Regions from separate parts of the Homo sapiens genome. Here region 2 is linked to region 1. Evidence: fine-mapped expression QTL. Tissue or cell type: aorta. Region 1 holds a variant in brackets; the other region holds the start of a gene. All regions are shown on one strand. Distances are between the middles of the regions. Region 1 overlaps GAS6 (growth arrest specific 6). Region 2 holds the start of GAS6-AS1 (GAS6 antisense RNA 1).

Region 1 (3,009 bases):
CCCCGCCTTTCAATCAGTGGGTGCCACTGACACCACAGGTCTGCACTCAAGGACGGTCAGAGGTGAAATTTCCCCCCCCGCCCTTCAATCAGTGGGTGCTGAGGCATCACTTGGTGTTTCCTTTCCTTCCAGCCCTGCTCCCAGAAAGGAGACTGCAGCTCCTCCCAATTCTCCTGGGGCTCCAGGATACCTCAGGGCTGCAGCCTCCTTGGGGCTGTCGGAGAGCAGCCTGAGGATGGCCGTGCCCCGGAGTGGGAGTGAGGAGCGGGGATCAGGGCAGGGTCGGAGATGGAGGGAGACCCCGCCTTTGTCTTCAGCCTCACGTACCTTTGTCGCAGAGCCGGCCCCCCCAGCCAGCTTTACACAGGCAGAAGAAGTTGCCCATGAGGTCCTGGCAGGCTTGGGTCCCCTTCCTATCGCAGGGGTTGGGCGTGCACTGGTCAGGCAGGTCTGATTGGGGACACAAAGTGGAAAATCATGTTCAGCTGCCCCACCCCTGCGCGCCCAACGCAGCTGAGATCGGGGCGGCTGTGGGGTCTCGGGTCCAGCCCGGAGGAGCTCTGAGGGGCGCAGGCTGAGGCAGCCCCTGGGCACCCGAGCCCTCTGTGCTGGCCTAGGGCTGACAGAATAGGCTGGCGGGCCCTGGGGCCGGCTCCAGGAAAACTCAGATCAACTGGGAGGGAGTGCCAGCAGGCCTGGACGCAAGGTGGGAAGGGCTGAGGGCAAAGGAGCAGGAACTGCCTGGCGTGAGGCCTGGGAGCTCAGACCTCCCAGGGAGTAGGCACACAGAACCCCCAGCTGACCTGGGGGCTTCCAGGCAGACTCGGAACATTCTGCCTTCCCTGGCCAGCCCCTAGCCCATCTCTGGTGAACTCTCCCTGCTGGGTGTGGCGGGGAGGACCCCAGGCCCAGGCTGCACTGCCAGAGGGGTCCTCCAGGAAGCCCCCCTCTTTCTGCTTAGCTGCCCCCTCTCCACGTGTCTTGATGGCTTTAGGCCAGGTGTGTTCTGCCCTTTCTCAGGGTGGTCACCTGGGCTCAGCTCCTGCAGGGCCAGAGGTCAGGGGAACGGGTGAGGGCCTGAGGGTGGGAACCCGTGCCAGTGCAGCTGCTTCCCAAGCAGTCCCCCATCCGAGAAGCTGCTCACAAACACATTCATACGAGGAGCTGCTCACAAACACGCTTCCAGGACACGGACCCAAACCACGTCCCAGAGGCAGGCAGGGAAGCCCCCGACAGTGCAGTTACGCAAGCCTGAGCCCCGGGAAGTTGGCAGAAAGAACGACAATTACACCCGGAGCTCAAAGAATCCTTTCATGGCTGCTGGCAGAGCAGAAGCAGCTCGGGGCTGAGCATGGCAGTGCTCAGGGGCGCGGTCCACACTCAGCTCAGCCCCACATGAGGACTCAGCCACGCTCAGCTTAGCCACACAGGGCTCCGTGGGGAACCCTGGGTAGGGCCCCCCTGCTGGCTGAGAGAGGGCTCCGGTCCATTGATTCCACACAAGTTCAATAAGGACCAGTCCCTGGGAAAAGTGCAGGCCGGGCCAGCAGGGCCCTAGGGCACTGGGCCAGCATCGTCCTAAGGGGTCAGCCCTGGTGGGGGCACGTCGAGTCTTCAGTGCATGGGCTCTCACTGCCAGCGTGTCGCTTCTGTTCCTGAGGCTCCCAAGGTGACGTTTCCCACCAGGTCTGTAGAATGTGGCGTTTCCACCAGAGGGTCTGGGCTCGGCTGTCAGTGCAGGAGCCGCTTCC[A/C]TCCCCACCTGGCCGGGGTCAGGGGTGCCCGGTGCCAGGGTGAGCGGCGGGCGGGTCTGTGGTTCACAAAGCTGAGTTCCTCCAGCTCATCCAGGGCTTACAGTCACTGCCTGTGGCCGGCACAGACACAGCCCCTGTCCTCCTAGGCGGGTCCAGGCACCGCGCTCACCAGAGGCCCTGGCTACGAGTCCCAGGCTTCTTGGGGAAGCTGCCCAACCACACTGGCTTCTTTCTGCGACGCTTCGCCGTATGCCTCACAGCGTTTCCTCCGTATGCCTCACAGTTTGCTCCGTACACCCGCGTTTCCTCCGTATGCCCCAGTTTCCTCCATATGCCTCAATTTCCTCCATACGCCCCACAGTTTCCTCCGTATGCCCCAGTTTCCTCCATACGCCCCGGTTTCCTCCATACACCCCACAGTTTCCTCCATACGCCCCACAGTTTCCTCCATATGCCCAGTTTCCTCCATACACCCCACAGTTTCCTCCATATGCCTCAATTTCCTCCATACGCCCCCCAGTTTCTTCCATACACCCCACAGTTTCCTCCATATGCCCAGTTTCCTCCATACACCCCACAGTTTCCTCCATATGCCCAGTTTCCTCCATACGCCCCCCAGTTTCCTCCATACGCCCCACAGTTTCCTCCATACGCCCCACAGTTTCCTCCATACGCCCCACAGTTTCTTCCATACGCCCCACAGTTTCCTCCATATGCCCAGTTTCCTCCATACACCCCACAGTTTCCTCCATATGCCTCAATTTCCTCCATACGCCCCCCAGTTTCTTCCATACACCCCACAGTTTCCTCCATACGCCTCAATTTTCTCTGTACGCCCCACAGTTTCCTCCATATGCCTCAGTTTCCTCCATACGCCCCAGTTTCCTCCATACGCCTCAATTTCCTTTGTACGCCCCAGTTTCCTCCATACGCCCCAGTTTCCTCCATACGCCCCAGTTTCCTCCATACGCCTCAATTTCCTCTGTATGCTTCAGTTTCCTCCATACACCTCAGTTTCCTCCGTCTGCCTCACAGTTTCCTCTATAAGCCTCAGTTTCCTCAGTACACCCCACAGTTTCCTCCCTACACCTCCGTTTGCTTGTTTTGCACAAATGACTGACAACAGAACACTTGTGGGTGTGGACGGAGCTCGCGTCTCGAAGTGTTTCTAAGATGCTATTTTCAGCAGGTCACTATAAACGCTTTCTACTCTGAAGCACACAGGGGCTGGGGCTGGCCTTCGGAGTTACGAGGAAAC
Region 2 (2,754 bases), 25 kb before region 1:
AGCTGCCTGGTGCAGGCACCAGCACCTCTTGGTGTCCTAGGGGTGCGAACAGCAGAGAAGCTGAACTGCAGGTCTGGGCAGGGAGTCTATGCCCCCTGGAGCTCTGGCCAGCAAAGTCACAGGAATAACCCTCCTTCCCCTCATGTCAGCCCTCGGTCGCAGGGTGCGGTGTGGGGGCATCAGAGTGCTTCCCCGAGGCTGCACTCACCAGCTTCCCCCAAACACAACATCGATCTTTCCCGACTTTTAATCTTGTCTAGAGTCAAAAGCTGTTCAAAAATATTCAACTCCAAGGTCAACAGTTTTGTTCTTGCCACAAAAATGTCCTTATCCTTTATCCCAGCCACAAAGAATGTGAACAATTTGACTCAAGGTTCGTGGTGGCTGGAGGGTCCCCCAGGTCCCAGGGCAGCTCCCACCTGGCGCAGGGCTCCGGCCAATGCCTGGCCTGCAGTGTGGGCGGCGGCTGCTCTCGAGGTGCACCTGTCTCATGTGGACGGATCCTGTCTGGGGCCACCAAGCTCTGCCAGCCTGAGTCACGGTCTGATGAACCCCCTCTCTGGGCTCCGCTGGGGCCTTCTGATCCCAGCCTCCTCTGCAGGGATGGGCTCCCAATCCCGCCCTCACTTGGTTCCCATGCACAGCCGAGGTCAGTGAGACCCTGGAGGCCGCGGGAGATGGGGTGGAGGGGATGGTGGGGCAGGGGGTGCTGGGGGGTTTGGGGGTGCTGTGGCCCCGGGGCAGGGGGTGCTGGGGGGTTTGGGGTGCTGTGGCCCCACCTGCACTCCCTGCCTCACTGGGACAGCACAGGAGACAGGCTTCTCCTGCAGCTCAGAGGTGGGGGCCTAGTGTAGCTGCAGGTTGTGACTGAGGAGGGCAGGGTCAGAGCATTGCCCTGGGCAGGGGTCCGTTGAGACTGGCCCCACCTTATTAGCTTGGGACCTTGGGTTACAGGGAGTCTCCTCCTGCCTCAGTTTCTACATTTCACACAGCAGCACTGCTCACAAGAGCTCCCAAGCAGAGGCAACTACTGAGTGGGGGAGGGACACAGTCCGTCCACATGGGGCCAACGGCCACAAAGAGAGGAAGGGACATGGGTGACGGTCCGTCCACGTGGGGTCACCGGCCACGGAGAGAGGAAGGGACATGGGTGACGGTCCGTCCACGTGGGGTCACCGGCCACGGAGAGAGGAAGGGACATGGGTGACGGTCCGTCCACATGGGGTCACCGGCCACGGAGAGAGGAAGGGACATGGGTGATATGGTTTTGCTGTGTCCCCACCCAAATCTCAACTTGAATTGTATTTCCCAGAATTCCTGCGCGTTGTGGGAGGGACCCAGCGGGAGGTAATTGAATCATGGTGGCTGGTCTTTCCCGTGCTATTCTCGTGATAGTGAGTAAGTCTCACGAGATCTGACTGGTTGATCAGGATTTCCGCTTTTGCTTCTTCCTCATTTTCTCTTGCTCCTGCCGTGTAAGAAGTGCCTTTTGCCTCCCACCGTGATTCTGAGGCCTCCCCAACCATGTGCAATTGTAAGTCCCGTTAAACCTCTTTTTTTCCCAGTCTCGGGTATGTCCTTATTAGCAGTGTGAAAACAGAATACTACAGTGGTCCATCCACACGCGGGTCTCACCCAGCCACAGAGAGGGAGAGGACGTGGCCCATCCACACGCGGGTCACCCGGCCACGGAGAGGAAGGAAGCTCTAACGGGTGCTGAGGCTGTAACACACAGTGCTCAGGGAAGGACACCAGACATGAAGACTGTGTTCTGTTTATATGCAGTGTCCAGAGAAGGCGTGTCCACAGACAGAAGCCGACTGGGAAAGGAGGTGCAGTCACTGCTCAGGGACACGGGTTCTTTTCGGGGAGGCAAGCGTGTTCGCAGCGTGTTCTGTATGGGGAGAGATGCAGTCACTGCTCAGGGACACGGGTTCTTTTCGGGGAGGCAAGCGTGTTTGCAGCGTGTTCTGGATGGGGAGAGGTGCAGTTACTGGTCAGGGACACGAGTTCTTTTCGGGGAGGCAAGCGTGTTTGCAGCGTGTTCTGGATGGGGAGAGGTGCAGTCACTGGTCAGGGATACGAGTTCTTTTCGGGGAGGCAAGTGTGTTCTAAGCGTGTTCTGGATGGGGAGAGGTGCAGTCACTGGTCAGGGACACGAGTTCTTGTGGGAAGAGGAGTGTCCGGGAGCCAGATGGCAGTGATGGGTGGACGGCCCCGTGGATGGACTGACCACCGACCCATGCTCTGCACTCATGAGGCGTGGCTATTGCTGTGTGAATCACATCTCCATGGAAACGGGAGTGGGAGAAACGGGCCCCAAGGATGTTGTGAAGATGGCCTTATGGGGCTGCACTGGTGACTTGGACAGTGCTGGCCACCGGCCCTGCTCAGTGAACAAGAGCCATGGTCATCACCCTCGCCACACAGAGCAGCTCCTCCTGCAGACTTGGGGACCCCGTGGCCACCAGACCCCGCGGTGGGAGCAGAGATGCCTCCGAAACTCTGGAGACCCACAGAGGCAGAAGAGGATTCCACGAGGCCGGGGCCCGTCAGCAGATCCTCAGACGGCGACACGCGCCACTTCCTTTTCTGTTTCCTAGACCTTTTAACTGATGGAATTCAGTAAGCAGAAAACGTGCTTGAAACAAGGGCACCATGGAGCGGACCCTCCCCCTCTCCCCTCGTGGAGTCCTTGACCCTGGGGCAGGTGACCCTTCTTGCTTTGCAGGCAGGGGCTGTGGCTGGAGCTTC

The links.
Region 2: GAS6-AS1 starts here. The variant in region 1 is fine-mapped to the expression of GAS6-AS1 in aorta (GTEx, PIP above 0.99). The same link has a PIP of 0.9 or more in sigmoid colon, subcutaneous fat, thyroid, tibial artery, tibial nerve and transverse colon.

What each region holds. Positions count from the first base shown.
Region 1 is chr13:113,839,401-113,842,409 of GRCh38, forward strand. It overlaps GAS6 (growth arrest specific 6), which reads right to left. Exons shown (of 15, transcript NM_000820.4): 5 at 328-450. GAS6-AS1 (GAS6 antisense RNA 1) reads left to right here. Exons shown (of 5, transcript NR_044995.2): 5 at 2,969-3,009. Among named protein-coding and RNA genes, the nearest start is that of GAS6, 23 kb to the right of the region's middle. RefSeq lists an enhancer at 31-607. The variant A/C (reference allele first, on the strand shown) is at 1,752.
Region 2 is chr13:113,814,158-113,816,911 of GRCh38, forward strand. It overlaps GAS6-AS1 (GAS6 antisense RNA 1), which reads left to right and starts at 1,453. Exons shown (of 5, transcript NR_044995.2): 1 at 1,453-1,534. TMEM255B (transmembrane protein 255B) reads left to right here. Exons shown (of 9, transcript NM_182614.4): 9 at 1-2,754. RefSeq lists enhancers at 1,337-1,406, 1,457-1,696, 1,757-1,876.